Linked DNA regions of Homo sapiens: region 2 is linked to region 1. Evidence: fine-mapped expression QTL. Tissue or cell type: whole blood. Region 1 holds a variant in brackets; the other region holds the start of a gene. All regions are shown on one strand. Distances are from middle to middle.

What was found. PIP is the estimated chance that this variant, and not a neighbour inherited with it, causes the effect.
Region 2: it holds the start of USP48, and the variant in region 1 is fine-mapped to the expression of USP48 in whole blood (INTERVAL, PIP 0.98).

The regions. Positions count from the first base shown.
Region 1 is chr1:21,688,036-21,696,297 of GRCh38, forward strand. It overlaps USP48 (ubiquitin specific peptidase 48), which reads right to left. Exons shown (of 27, transcript NM_032236.8): 23 at 7,031-7,186; 24 at 1,939-2,064. Among named protein-coding and RNA genes, the nearest start is that of RAP1GAP, 23 kb to the left of the region's middle. The variant CA/C (reference allele first, on the strand shown) is at 3,281.
Region 2 is chr1:21,779,611-21,787,610 of GRCh38, forward strand. It overlaps USP48 (ubiquitin specific peptidase 48), which reads right to left and starts at 3,539. Exons shown (of 27, transcript NM_032236.8): 1 at 3,214-3,539. The coding sequence starts at 3,347. RefSeq lists enhancers at 2,223-2,272, 2,585-3,356, 2,833-2,932, 3,357-4,127, 3,873-3,922 and silencers at 3,303-3,662, 6,050-6,224.

The sequences.
Region 1 (8,262 bases):
TGAAAAGCATACATTTCACAGTTCAAAATAAAAAACCTGAACAATGATTCTACCACATGATGTGGTGGTATTCGGCACAGTAGGGATTCTTTTGGCCAAGAAGAAACAAAAGAGGCAATGGGAAGCGACTAAGTTAGGCCCTTAGGGAGGGTAGAATTGGGCAAATGAGGCTGGTTCAATGACTTTTCTTTCTTTCTTTTTGAGACGGAGTCTCCCTCTGTTGCCCAGGCTGGAGTGCAGTGGCGCAATCTCGGCTCACTGCAACTTCCACCTCCCGAGTTCACGCCATTCTCCTGTCTCAGCCTCCCGAGTAGCTGGGATCACAGGTGCCCACCACCACGCTTGGCCAATTTTCTTGTATATTTAGTAGAGATGGGGTTTCACCATGCTGGCCACGCTGGTCTTGAACTCCTGACCTCATGATCCACCCACCTCAACCTCCCAAAGTGTTAGGATTACAGGGGTGAGCCACTGCGCCCAGTGAAAGTAGGGGCTTCTAAGACACTGTCAAAGAAAAGTCACTGAGGCCTGGCGCAGTGGCTCACACCTGTAATCCCAGCACTTTGGGAGGTGAGGCGGGCAGATCACCTGAGGTCAGGAGTTTGAGACCAGCTTGGCCAACACGGTGAAACCCTGTCTCTACTAAAAATACAAAAAATTGGCCGGGTGTGGTGGCACACGCCTGTAATCCCAGATACTCGGGAGGCCGCGGCAGGAGAACTGCTTGAATCTGGGAGGTGGAGGTTGCAGTGAGCCGAGATTGTGCCACTGCACTCCAGCCTGGGCAACACAGCGAGACTCCATCTCAAAAAAAAAAAAAAAAAAAAGAAGAAGCCCCTACTTTCTACATCTACTAAATCCAAAACCAATTTCCATGCCTTGGACAGAATCCCATTAAGTCGTGTATTTTGACTGTTGTGACAGAACCTTGTGTTTTACCCTTGTTTCCTAGCTTGGCTGGCTAGTCCTTTTGAACCAAAAGGAAAAGAGGAGATACTTTAATACTATGACGTATGGTTAAGTAATTCTGCTGAACCGGAAGTTAGGGAAAAAGTTACAGAGGAGGCTGAATCTACTTTTAACTAAGAAAAACTATGAAAATCTCAGCAGAGATAGATTTTAAAGTATAAAATAAGTTACTATTTGCATTGGTCACAAGTCTATCTTCTACCCATTTTTTGCTTTTTTTTTTTGTGGGGGCAGCATTTCAAATTAAGTTGCAGACATCAGTATCATTAGTGTGGTTTTAAGAACAGATCCATCTAGTCCAAAAAAAGGAAAAAAAAAAAAGCGGGGGGCGGGGGGTTGGAGGGCATTGGGGAGGGGACACCACAGAAACTTTGTGACCTGAGACCAGATCACTCAGCTTGCCCCTTTGGAATGACAGTCAATCCTCAGTGCTCAGAGGGCCACAACCCAATATCACTCCCTTCCTCCCAGTCTGAGGGGAATGAAAACTAGATCTGTATCTGGAGAAGAATGGGGGCCCTTGTGACAGAAAATCAAATGGGAAAAATCAGGCGTGGAGCTTAGCAGTTGGGTGAGTGGGATTTATACCACTGCCCTGCCCTACCAGGGAACAGGAAAGTAATGATGTACCCTGATCCCACAAAGGCATAGAAACTGATCTAGGTGATCCAGGAAAGGCCAAGGAAAGCCTTCACTTTCACCTTCTCAGGGTACCAGCAGTTGCTGATGCTGTGGCGTAACATCACCTACTATAACACACAAGAACAAGATAGATGATGTCCTGACCTCCTCTAAGTCTCCTGGGGCTCAGCCAGAGTTGGGCTGAGCTGCAAAAACCCACAGCAGTCATTTATCACTACCCTCTGCTAAAGACCCAAGGCATCCTTTAACCACCATTTCACACAGTTTACACATAGTTATGTAACATGTAAAACCTTGAGTTCTTCAGCTAAGGAGCTGTTTACTTACCTTCAATAAAATGACAGATTCAGGAATGACGCCAAGGGTGCCTAGGGTGGCACAGTCATCACTTAAAATCTTTCCATCAATTGACAAATTCTGGTCAAAAGGAGCAACTGAAAATGCATGCATGATCTGTGCCAATATAAAAGAGAGAAAGTCCGTATAATGCAAAATACTAAGACTTATACCCTATTTAAATAAATTATGCATGGATTCTTAAAAAAAAAAAAAAGGCTTCAGAGTACAAAACCACTATTGTTTACAGTCAGCCTACTTGTTATACTCCTACTGAGGCTATCGTCCCTATATATCCGGGAACATCCTTAAGAGGTCTGGTAGAGTATTAGGAAACAATTACACATATAGATGCGTTTGTTCCTTACCTTACCAGCTTCCCAAGGATGGAGGTGTGGGGAAATAAAATGAATAAAAAGTGGGGCTGGGCTGATGGCTATTCTGAGGCTTGGGCAAGGTCATCACTGTCACCTCATCTTTCCCAGGCCCCATATCCTTTCATCAACAAGTCAAGTCCAAATTCTTTCTTTTTTCTTTTTCTTTTTTTTTTGTTGTTGTTGAGACAGGGTCTCACTCTGTCACCCAGGCTGGAGTGCAGTGGCGCGATCATGGCTCATTGCAGCCTTGAACTCCCAGGCTCAAGGGATCCTCCCACCTAAGGCTTCTGAGTGGCTGAGACTACAGATGTGTGCTACCATGTCTGGCGGATTTTTTATTTTTTATTTTTGTAGACATGAGGTCTTGCTATGTTGCCCAGGCTGGTCTCGAATTCTTAGACTCAAGCAATCCTCCCAGCTTAGCCTCCCGAAGTGCAGAGATTACAGGCATGAGCCACTGCATCTGGCCCAAAATTCTTTCTTAAAACCATCTTTAAATTCTCTCTTTTGTTCTTATTCCTTTAGCAAATGGCCTGGGGTATGTAATTCAGCCTTTGGAACTGTCACATATTCTTAGACTGAGTTTTGTCTCTAGGAAGCAAAATATGAATTTCTGAAGGGTAGGGACCATATGCCCCACCCCAGTTCTGGCCAAGTGTTAAAAATTAAATACAGCCGGGTGCAGTGGCTCTCGCCTGTAATCCCAACACTTTGGGAGGCCGAGGTGGACGGATCACCTCACGTCAGGAGTTCGAGACCAGCCTGACCAACATGGTGAAACCCTGTCTCCACTAAAAATACAAAATTAGCTGAGTATGGTGGCACATGCCTGTAATCTCAGCTACTCGGGAGGCTGAGGCCAGAGAATTGCTTGAACCCAGGAGATGGAGGTTGTGGTGAGCTGAGACCACGCCATTGCACTCCAGCCTATACAACAAGAGCGAAACTCCCATCTC[CA/C]AAAAAAAAAAAAAAAAAAAAATTAAATACTTTCCAGATGAGTGTGGTGGCTCATGCTTGTAATACCAGCACTTTGAGAGGCTGAGGCAGGTGGATCACCTGAGGTCAGGAGTTCAAGACCAGCCTGGCCATCATGGCAAAACCCTATCTCTACTAAAAATACAAAAATTTAGCTGGGAATAGTGCCATGCACCTGTGATCTTAGCTACTTGGGAGGCTGAGGGAGGAGAATCACTTGAACCCAGGAAGCAGAAGTTGCAGTAAGCCGAGATTGCGCCACTGCACTCCAGTCTGGGCGAAAGAGCAAGACACTATCTCAAAAATAAATCATACATACATTCCAAAATACTGGTATACATAATATTTAAATGTTTTTACAAATTCAGAAAGGTTTGTTTTTTAAATTTTATCATTTCTGGGTCATGTTTACCTCTGGAGGGCAAGAAGAAGTTGGGCTCAGACAGGCAAACACAGGTAACCTTCAATGACACTGTTTTAATTCTTAACTCGGTAGACAAGTTCAAGAATATTCATATTAGTATGCTTTTTAACTTACCCATAAAATGCATGCTATTACATGTATCTTATATTACACCAACACCCATGATGTCATGGGAAAACCATTCTGCCCTTTCCTGCACTCTATTCTTTGGATGTGGAAAGACAAAACGAGCCTCACAAATCAACCTTGAACTGTGTGTGTAACAGGGCCCAAGAGCTTGACAGGCCAGTGTGATGGGGACCAGAAAAGTGATTTTAATAATCGCACCAAAGACAAATAAGAACAAGGATAACAGCACTGGCCTCCTCCCTAACTGCTGGGACAGAATCTTACCTGGATTTTTCAAAAGAACATCAGCGCCTGAAAAGCAGGCAGGGATGGACTAGCCAGAGATCTGTGGCTAGCAATGAAAAGTGCACTGGCATCATCAATGGTCTTCATGAAGCAATAAGCAGGAGTACTGACAGGACAGTTCTATCCAAGCCAGCTCAGCATGCAAACATCAAGCAGAGGCATATCCAGCCCTACACCAGCAAATGTTCCGGAACCATGAAGATTGAGCAGAGCTACGGTGGATGTGTGTGATGCTAACTTAACATGGATAATGTCACAGCTGCTGGACTGTAAAAATGCTTGTTCATGCCCCTAAATGCTAAGTGTTTTTGTACTACCCTATGAAACTGGACAAACAGCAAATACCTCTAGACACAAGTGCCACAACTAAGGGGCTGACGTTCACACATTATATTCTGAGAACGGACAAGGGCACTGAGATGCTGTCAACAACTAATGAAGCATTTAATAAGAAGCTACCGTGTGTCAAGTACTGTTTTAGGTGTTGATAATATAAAAGTGAATAATCCCGCCCTAGAGGGGTTTCCAGGAGTGAGGTCAAAACAAAGTTGTGAGGATGGTAGCAGAAGGTATGTGCAGGATCTAGCGAGCACAGGGGGACAGTCAGTTCCATGAAAGGGGCCAAGACAGGTTTCACAGAAGGGTCAATATGAAAGATGAACACACGCTTCTAGAGAGAAGATGGAACAGGCCAACCAAGGCAGGGAGGCCTACGGTAAAATAATCCTTAAACTCTAAGTGCTAGGAGAATGCTTCAGTATAAAGAACACGATAGAGGTCTGCTTAACAAGTAGATGTGGCATTCCTGGTCTATGGAACTTAACAGGAACCATGAAAACCCTGTTGCTATCAGGGAGTGGCTCTCCTCTGCTTGCGATGCTGTGTGGGGCTGAAAAAAGAAAATATAGAAGCGATCGCCTCAGCTGCCAGCCATTTCACTTCTGTGCCAAAATATTCTACTTTCTCAGGCAGGCAATACCACCCACCCACTAAAGATCTATCTTTGGGAAAATGAAATAATACAACTAAACACTGCACATCTTTTGAGAAAGGAAATGAACAAATTGTACTTCATTAACCTCATGGGATCAAAGGTGGATGAATTACTGATTAGACACAGCAAGCTTTGTAATGTTTCAAGCAAACCTTACAAACTCTGATGCTATCCACACTGCCAGGCAAATAGGCTCACATCTAGTTGAAGCTTCACAAGCTCCCACCACTATGTAGTGAGGGGAAAGACCTTCTACTGCCTTTTCTTTGACTCTGTTTGGCCCGCAGTGGTCCCTGAAGCAAGAGTGGGAGATGAGACAGACATTCAGGAAGAGCACCTCTGGGGGCTGTGTGAACAGCTGCCATCTTCTAGCAGCTCATTCGGGCAGGTACATGCTCTCAGATGGAAGGGTTATTTCTGCTGACTTCTGGTTTATTCTTCAAAAATTGTAGTCCATAATAAAAGCAGCACAGGCTTTTAAAAATGTCTTTAGGCACAGGGGCTCTTTCTGTAATTTAAAGGTTTTGAATGTTCGAGGTTTCCCAATGACAGGCAGAAAGCCAGTGATAGAAACAAGGTTTCTTAGATGTAAAAGGTACAATAACAGAGTAAAGATATTATGCCAACACACTTATTTTCAGAGCCATGGGTTCAACCAAGGGAAATACTGTTGTCAGGACAATCTGGAATACATAACACCCTCAAAGGAAGGCCTGTACTTTTGCCTCAATTACAATGATAAATATCAGCAACAAGAAAAATGTGTAACCAGTAAACTATGCCACATAAAAGTAGCAAAGGAGGAAATTTGGTCAACTTTTTGGATATCTATCAGTGACTGAAACAGATTAGGGGCCAGAATTTTTTATGGACATCTTGAATTTATCAGTTCCTTCTGCCTAGGGTTTGAGATTTACCACTGGAATGCTTATTTATAGTACTTCAGTATTGATACCAAGAAATAACAGTATCATGAAACCATTTCATAATGCCTGCACTACAGCCGTGGAACTGATTTGTAAAGCAATGCATGCTTTGAGGGGGATGGAGAGGACATATCTAAAATAAATCTATATAACAATTTGGAAAACATCAAGGTAAAGATAATTTTAAAACTCTATCAAGGCCGGGCGCGGTGGCTCACGCCTGTAATCTCAGCACTTTGGGAGGCTGAGGCGGGTGGAAAACGAGGTAAGGAGTTCAAGACCAGCCTGGCCAAGATGGTGAAACCCTGTCTCTACTAAAAATACAAAAATTAGCTGGGTGTGGTGGCACGCACCTGTAATCCCAGCTACTCAGGAGGCTGAGGCAGAGAACTGCTTGAACCCGGTAGGCGGAGGTTGCAGTGAGCCAAGATGGCACCACTGCACTCCAGCCTGGGTGACAGAGTGAGGCTCTGTCTCACCAAAAAAAAAAAAAAAAAAAAAAAAAAAAAAAAAAACCCCCTCTATCTATCAAATAGATTTATCTGCCACCAAAAATACTGTGACAGCCTAGTGAATAAGCAATCACTAATCGCTAATAATAAGCTGCCTTTTATCTCCCATTAAATTTCACAGCAGTTCCTGGTAACAGCCTCCAATACCTATTAAGTGGTCAAAGAAAAGCATACAGCACAATAAAGTGAGAGAACAGTTATCCTGGCACAACCTCAACATGTGACAAATTAAGTGGTTCCCAGCGTTTCTCATTATTGGAAAGCTATTGCAGAACCAGCCCAAGTTTCCAGAACCCAAAATTCACTTTCATCTTCACAAAAAGATTTTTGGCTATTTTGAAAACTTTAAGTCTTCTGGAAAAAAACACAGATACATACATATATGTAAATACAGGTGGAAAGCAGGAATTCATAAAGGCCCTTTTAAGTCCAGAGCAAACTTGAACAAATGTTTCCCTCACCTGAATTTTCAATTCTTTTAACGTCTGATTAGCAGAAACGAGAAGTGCTTTCTCACCACGAACTTTTCTATGTCGCATACTTCGGCGAATAACTTGCTTTTGATAGGCTATATAATTTTGATGGGATATCTTTTGCCGCTTTGTTCCACCATTGCTCTATAATGAAGATTGGAAATGAAGAAAGCACTGAAATTAACCACAATGTGACCCTTGCTCATGAAGTTTTTCAGGTAAACAAAAGCTGTTTCCTTATTGGTCCCTTAACTATTTGAAATTCAATGTAAACAATGAGTAGAAACTAACGAGACTTTCTTAGCAGGCTCACATAAAATTGATAAAAGAAAATAATGAGTAATACACACCTCTAAGTGCATGTAAGCAGTTTAAATGTTTGTTACAAGAGACATTTAAGGTTTGGTGAGGAGGCTCCCACCTATAATCCCAGGAGTTCAAGACCAGCCTAGGCAACATATTAAGACCCATCTCAACCAAAAATTAGCCAGGCGTGGTGGCATGAGCCTGTAGTCCCAGCTACTTGGAGGCTGAGGCAGGAGGATCATTTGAGCCCAGTGGTTCCAGGCTGCAGTGAGCTACAATCGCACCACTGGACTCCAGTCTGCTGACAGAGTGAGACTCTGTCTCTTTTATAAAAAAGACCTTACATCAGAAAAACATAATAAACTGAAAATCTTGAGGATTACAAAACTTAGTTCATGAACAACCTGAATTTTAAACATTTTCTTCTCTTCTTGAGAATGACATGGAAACTAAGTATAAACTGTTGTGAATTTAAAAATAAAATATGGAACATTAATAAAAAAAAATCAAACTTAGTTTGACTAAAAACAAGACTTTACCACTTGTCCTAATGGCAAAATATACAGACTCACTCATAAAATATTCTTGCAAAAATGTTATACTGGAATGTAATCAAACATTTACGCCCACCTTTCAATTTACAGAAATTGGAATATAGGGGATATATAAATAAATTAAAATAAGTAACATAAAGAAGCAATCAGCCAAATACAGAACATGGAACAATCTAAAAGAAATCAAACTGGTCCAAGTTCAATGTCAAGAAGGCAAAGAGCCTGGCATGGTGGCTCACGCCTGTAATCCCAACACTCTGGGAGGCCGAAGTGGGCAGATCACCTGAGGTCAGGAGTTCGAGACCAGCCTGACTAAAATGGAGAAACCCCCCTCTCTACTAAAAATGCAAAATTAGCCGG
Region 2 (8,000 bases), 91 kb after region 1:
TGCTCTATAACCAAGAGAAATAAAAATAAATGCCCACACAAAAACTACTACACTAATGTTCATAGCAACATTATAATAGCCAAAAAGTAGAAATGACCCAAATGTCTATCAGCAGATGAATGCAAATTAAAAATGTGGTAGATACAGAGATATGATGGCATATTATTGATCAATAAAAGGAAAAGAGGCAACGAGCACATGAAAAGACGCTGAACTCATTAGTCACTAGGAAAATGCAAATCAAAACTACAAAGATGCATCACTTCACACCCAAGTAGGAGGGCCTAACCAGAAAAACAGAAAATAGTACCTGTTTATGAGGATGATGAAGCATTTGAACCCTCATACATCACTGGTGGGAATGTAAATCGGTACAACCACTGTGGAAGTTTCGCGGTTCGGTTAAGTTAAACACAGAATTGACTGTGTATGACCCAGTAATTCCACTCCCAGGTAAAGAACTGAAATCAGATGTTCAGACCAAAACTTGTATGCAAATGTTCAGAGAAGTACTACTCAAAATAAGCAAAAGGTGGAAATAATCAAAATGTCCCTCAACTGATGAATAGATATATAAAATGTGGTATTATCCATAAAATGGAATACTACTCAGCCGTAAGGAATAAAGTAGTGACACATGCGCAGCAGGGATAACCCTTGGAAACATTACGTTAAGTGAAACCAGACACAAATGGCCACGTACTGTATAATTCCATTGCTATGAAATATTAATAGAGAAATCCAGAGACAGAAAGTAGATTAGCAGTTGCCAGGGGCTGGGCGAGGGGGGAAAATGGGAAGTGACTAACAGATGCTCAGTTTCCTTTTAGGATAATGAAAAGTTCTGGAACCAGACAGTGGTGATGGTTGTACAACACTATAAAGGTACTGAAACCCACCGAATTGTGCACTTTAAAATGGTAAACACTGTCATATGTATTTCCCAGGTATTTTTTTAATGAAATGAAGTGCTGAAACATGCTACAACATGGATGACCCTTAAATACATAAGTAAAGGAAATCAGTCACAAAAGTCCACGTATTTTAGGATTCCATTTATATGAAATGTCCAGAATAGGGAAATTTAGAGGCGGAACATACAGGGCATACAGAGCCAAGATAAGATAATTTTTTTTTTTTTTTTTTTTTTGAGACTGAGTCTCGCCCTGTTGCCCAAGCTGGAGTGCAGTGGCGTGATCTCGGCTCACCGCAACCTCCACCTCCCGGGTTCCAGGGTTCTCCTGCCTCAGCCACCCCAGTAGCTGGGATTACAGGCGCCCGCCACCACCCCCGGCTAATTTTTGTATTTTTAGTAGAGACGGGGTTTCACCATGCTGGCCAGGCTGGTCTCGAACTCCTGACCTCGTGATCCGCCCATCTCGGCCTCCCAAAGTGCTGGGATTACAGGCATGAGCCACCGCACCCGGCCTATTCTTTTTTCTTTTAAAATTTTTATTTTAAAAATTTATTTTTTTAAATTTATCCAGCGTCTCACGACGCTGTCTCGAAAAAAAAAAAAGTATCGGCCTGGCGGGCGGTGGCTCACGCCTGTAATGCCAGCACTTTGGGAGGCCAAGGCGGTCAAATTATCTGAGGTCAGGAGTTCGAGACCAGCCTGACCAACATGGAGAAACCCTGTCTCTACTAAAAATACAAAAAATAAAAATAATAAAAAAAAATTAGCCGGGCATGATGGTGCATGCCTGTAATCCCAGCTATTCAGGAGGCTGAGGCAGGAGAATCGCTTGAACCAAGGAGGCAGAGGTTGCAGTGAGCCGAGATCACGCCATTGCACTCTAGCCTGGGCAATAAGAGCGAAACACCGTCTCAATAAATAAATAAATATCAGAAATTGGCCCAGCATGGTGGCTCACGCCTGTAATCCCAGAAGAGGTGGGCAGATCGCTTGAGCCCAGAGCTCGAGACCAGCCTGGCCAACATGGCGAAAACCCGTCTCCACTAAAAATACAAAACTGAGTCGGGCGTGGTGGCCCGTGCCTCTAATCCCAGCTACTCCGGAGGCCGAGGTGGGAGGATCGCTTGAGCCTGGGAAACGGAGGTTGCAGTGAGCCGAGCTCGTGACACTGCACTCCAGCCTGTGTGACAGAGTGAGACCCTGTCTCAAAAACCACCAGAACTATTAGTAGTTTACATTATTTGGTTAGTCTGGAAACTAATTACGTTGAGAAACTGACTGAAGCTTGATTATTTCTATTATACACAGACTTCAAACATTCCAGAACTTACTGTTAAAGTCAGATTTACCCTCCTTGTGAGACAGACGCCCAGAGCTTGGACTTATTCGTTTGCTTTATAGAAACTCCCTAACTTATTTCACTTCTCATACTAGACTTTAAGCTCCAAAGCCAGAGACCATGACTTCCATTCCTTCCGGATCCCCCAGCGGAATGTAAAAACTCCAGAAAGCATTTCCTAAATGCCTGCCGAAAGACGGCTACTGAGCATGCCCGGCTTGGCCAAGTCAATTTCAACAACATTCTGAAACAAAAACTATAGTTCCCGCGTTACAAGGTGGAAAAAAGGGAATAAACGGGAGCAAAGCCTAAGGATTCAATCTATATGAGGGGGTTAAGGAAAGGTAAAGTTCAAGGGCGGCGCAGACGTGAAGGACAGCACTATCACAGCTTAAACTTGGTACTCGGTAAACTGGTGTCGAACCAGAACGACCAAAGAAAGGCTTAAAAAAAATACTAGATTAACGAGTGAGGGAAGGCCAACGGGGGTGCAGGGTATCGATGACGTAGGCTGACCACAGTTTTTTCTAAAGCTGCCCTCTACAAAAATAATACTAAGATGATCAGGCCTTCGGTGTCAACACCAACAAGATACACTGTGATGAAGCTCACTTCCAAAAAGTTCCTTTTTACAAACGAAAGAGCCGTGCTGTGGCCAAGATACCCCAACCATCAACGCTTGCTAAGCTCTCAGCTCCTGCCTTCATCTCCACCGCCATCTTCTGGATGGGAACCCAAACCTTCCTAAAGTGCTTTGGCCAGCATCACCTCCGCGCACAGCCCGGGAAGCCTGCGTTTCCCAGGTCGCGCAGACGGCGCAAAGGGGGAAACTCCACCTCGCTCGGCTCCGCGCCTCCCAAATGCACGCAAAGGGCTGCCGTCTTCCTTTCCCCTACCCCGCCCGGGCTTTCCAAGGTCCGGCGCGAGGAGCCCGCGAGGCGCGGTGCGCGGGCCTCACCTGCACACGCCGCGAATGCAGGGCTCCAGCCAGATGCGGTAAGCGGTCTCGATGTGCTCCTGCGACACCTCCTCGGGCCGCACCGTCTCCGCCCAGCGCCAGGCCGCCTTCTCCAGCTGCAGCCGCGGGGCCATGGCCTTGGCCCCAGGAACGCCTCCCGAGCCAGACCGCCGCAGCCGCCGCCGCGGTCTGCACCGCCGCCCCAATGGGCTTCGCCACCTGCCAGCAAGGAGGACCTGGCGCTCCTTCAGGCAGCTGGCCAGTCAATCACCTGTGCGCGCCACTGCCGCCGCGCCCGCCCGCGCCCGACCCGCACGACCGGCCGCAAAGCGCCGCCGTCGACACCCGACACACCCCGCGCCCGCGGACGTTAAAGGTGGACTCCCCGCCGCGCTGAGCGCATGCGCGTTCCCAGCAGCCTCTGCGCCTCCCGCGCCCCTAACCCGACGGGCTGAGGTAGAGGAAGCGTACGTCCGAGGCGGTCTTGCCACGTCCTCACTGGCACTTCTGGAAAAGCAGCGTCTCAGCCCCCGTTCAGGGCGGCGCACTACGTACCACTACTCTAACAAACCAGTGCCTCGAAAGCTATTTCTTGCCTCCGGTACTTCCCTTTTAACCATGAAGTTTTCACGCTAGAGGCTACTCAACGCACACACAGGCCCGCCCAGACTGTGGAGCGGGACCTGTTTAGAGTAGAAACCGAGTCGCCAAAGAAACCAGTGTTGGCTCTTTAGAGGGAGATTTAACTTGAGCCTAGACCGGTTCCGAACCCCTTTCCCGAGCCCTCCTGACGTCATGGGACCTTCCGGCCTTTTCCCGTGCTAGGGTGGGACTACGTGTCCCGGCATGCCCTGCGTCCTGCCACTGACTGTGAGGCATGCTGGGATTTGTAGTCTTCGAGGTGGGAGTGCTCAGTGCGCCGCAGACTGTGCGGGCGGGGGTCCGAGGTGCCAGGGTGGAGTTTCTCTGGTGCGCAAGGTCATGTTTGCTGTTGGCTCCCTTCTCAAGACTGTTACCTCTATGCCAGGATTTTCTAGTTCCTCTCTAGCTCCTGGTTTAAAACATTTCCTTTCTGCGACTCCTGCCCCAGGACATAAAGAGTAGCTTTATGAGAATTGTTTTGCAAACTGTAAAGAACTCTACTAAAGTGAGGATATTTAAGAATTTTGAATTTGAATTAGAGCTCTGCCAGAATCTAAGCGCTAACTTCTGACTCAGCTGCTTGCCTGCTGGAAAACCTTAGGCTGAATTCTTTAGATAAACATTCACTGGGCCGAGCACCGTGGCTCAAGGATCCAATCCCAGCACTTTGGGAGGCCGAGGTGGGCGGATCACCTGAGGTCAGGAGTTCGAGGCCAGCCTGACCAAAATGGAGAAACCCCGTCTCTACTAAAAATACAAAATTAGCAAGGCGCGGTCGCGCATGCCTGTAATCCCAGCTAGTCGGGAGGCAGAGGCAGGAGAATCGCTTGAACCCGGGAGGCGGAGGTTGTGGTTAGCCGAGATAACGCCATTGCACTCCAGCCTGGGCAACAAGAGTAAAACTCCGTCTCAAAAAAAACAAAAAAATTCGCTGAAGGCAGAAGAAAGTAAGATGTGGTCCCTGCCCTTGGAAGTGGGTTAGGGAGTGAGCGGTAGAAATACAAAGATCCCCATCCCAGTCTTGGGAGGCTTCGGGGTACTTGAGAAAAGGCTTCCCAGAAGTAATTCCGAAGCCCGCTTTTAACGGGTGAGTTGGACTTATCCAGGATAGAAGAAAGACACCATTCCAGAAAAAAAGAAACCACAAGGAGCAAAGGCACAGAAGAGAAAAGCTTGGCGTGAGAGGGCCACAATTTCTGAGACAGGGACAGGTGAGAGTTATGGCTTGAAAGGAAGACCTTGCCGCCGGGCGCGGTGGCTCACGCCTGTAATCCCAGCACTTTGGGAGGCCAAGGCGGGCGGATCACGAGATCAGGAGATCGAGACCATCCTGGCTAACACGGTGAAACCCCCTCTCTACTAAAAATACAAAAAAAATAGCCGGGCGTAGTGGCGGGCGCCTGTAGTCCCAGCTACTCTGGAGGCTGAGGCAGGAGAAGGGCGGGAACCCAGGAGGCGGAGCTTACAGTGAGCGGAGATCGCGCCACTGCCCTCCGGCCTGGGCGACTGAGCGAGACTCTGTCTCCAAAAAAAAAACAAAAACAAAACAAAACAACAATAACAACAACAATAAAACAACAATAACAACAAAAAAAAAAACAAAAAAAGGAAGACCTTTATTCAAAGTACCCACTGAAGATATACAGCTGTTGAGTGCTATAATGGAGATTTGCATTTTGTATAGTGAGGCAGAGAAGACTTTTTTTTTTCCTGAGACGGAGTTTTGCTCTTGTTGCCCAGGCTGGAGTGCAATGGTGTGGTCTGGGCTCACTGCAACCTCCGCCTCCTGGGTTCAAGCGATTCTCCTGCCTCAACCTCCCAAGTAGCTAGGATTACAGGCTTTTGCCACCACGCCCGCCTAATTTTTTTGTATTTTTTAGTAGAGACGGGGTTTCACTATGTTGGTCAGGCTGGTCTCGAACTCCGGACTTCAGGTGATCCGCCCACCTCGGCCTCTCAAAGTGCTGGGATTACAGGTGTGAGCTACCGCGCCTGGCCTCCTCCCCTTTTTAGACCATATAGGGTAACTTCCTGACTTTGCCATGGCATTTGTAACCTGTCATGCACTGGTGGGCATGTCTTTTAGCATGCTAATGTATAATAATTAGCGTATAATAATTAGCATATAATAAGCAGTGAGGACGACCAGAGGTCAGTCTCATGGCCATCTTGGTTTTGGTGGGTTTTAACCAGCTTCTTTACTGCATTCTGTTTTCTCAGCAATGTCTTTATGACCTGTATCTTGTGTAGACCTCCTATCTCATCCTGTGTCTAAGAATGCCTTAGGCCAGGCATGGTGGCTCATGCCTGTAATCCCAGCACTTTAGGAGGCCAAGGTGGGCGGATCACGAGGTCAGGAGTTCGAGATGAGCCTGGCCAACATAGTGAAACCCTGGGTCTACTAAAAATACAAAAATTAGCCAGGCATGGTGGCGGGCACCTGTAATCCCAGCTACTCAGGAGGCTGAGGCAGGACAATTGCTTGAACAGGAGGCGGAGGTTACAGTGAGCCAAGATCGTGGCATTGCACTCCATCCCAGGCGACGGTGGGAAACTCAGGCAAAAAAAATGTCTTCACCTCCTGGGAATGCAGCCCAGTAGGTCTCAGCCTTATTTTACCCAGCCCCCATTCAAGATAGAGTCACTCTGGTTCAAACGCCTTGGACAGAATGAGGACTTGCTACAGCTTGATGATGTTGACCTGACCGGTATATCTTCACCTTTCTGATATTTGACCTTCAAGTCTGGTCACACCCCTTTCCTCAGTATCCACAGCTCCCTGTGTCATCCCTTGCTTCACTTAGCACATGATGAAATTGTGACTATCATTCACCATGAAGACACTACTATATGGCAGTTTTCTAAATTGGATAATTAAATAGAATTTCTACCAAATGAGATAGCAACACCAGAAGAAGGAACAGATTTAGAAAGAAGATGATTTCGGCCAGGCACGGTAGCTCACGCCTGTAATCCAGCACTTTGGGAGGCCGAGGTGGACAGATCATCTGAGGTCAGGAGTTCGAGACCAGCTTGGGCAACATGGTGAAACCCTGTCTCTACAAAAATACAAAAATTTGCCAGGTGTGGTGGTAGGCACCTGTAGTCCCAGCTACTCAGAAGGCTGAAGTGGAGGGATTGCTTGAGCCCAGGAGGTCGAGGTTGCAGTGAGCAGAGATCTCACCACTGCACTCCAGTCTGGGCGACAGAGGGAGACCCTGTCTCAAAAACAAACAAACAAAACCCAAATGTGCTAATTTGCTGTAATTTCTCTGAAGTTTAACAAACCCTCTCTTGACTCCCACATCCCCCTCCAGCTACTGTCCCATTTCTCTTTTTCCCTTTATAGCAAAACTCCTGGAAAGCATTTTCTGTACTCTTCTCCAGTTCTCCTCCTATTCCTCCTTAAACCTCCCAAATCAGGTTCTTGCCTCTATCACCTCCAAAACTGCTCGTATGAAGAATGCCAATGGCCTTCACCTTGTTAAATGCAGTGGTAAACTCATACTCTATTTATTTTACTAGACCTGTTAGCAGCAATTGACCCAGTTATTCACTCTTTCCTCTTAGAAACACTTTCTTCTCTTAAATCACAGGGTGCCACACTCTCCTGGTTTTCTCTTTACTGCTGGCCATCCCTTCCGGTGTCCTTTGCAGCTTCTTTCTCCTCTAACCTGGAAACTTGAGTGGCCTAGGGTTCAGTCCTTTGGACCTCTCCTTTAACTTTGTTTACTCCCTGGGGGATCTTGTTAGAAATGCTTGTTCCCCAGTGCCGTAAAGAAGTAGCACTTACGGCCGGGCGCGGTGGCTCACACCTGTAATCCCAGCACTTTGGGAGGCCGAGGCAGGCAGATCATGAGGTCAAGAGATCAAGACCATCCTGGCCAACATGGTGAAACCCCGTCTCTACAAAAAATACAAAAAATTAGCTGGGCATGGTGGCACACGCCTGTAGTCCTAGCTACTCAGGAGGCTGAGGCAGGAGAATCGCTTGAACCTGGGAGGCAGCGGTTGCAGGGAGCCAAGATTGTGCCACTGCACTCCAGCCTGGCGACAGAGCGAGACTTCATCTAAAAAAAAAACAACAAAAAACAAATAGCACTTGAACATAAATTTAACATCCTCAGCAAGGCCATTTTTACTTT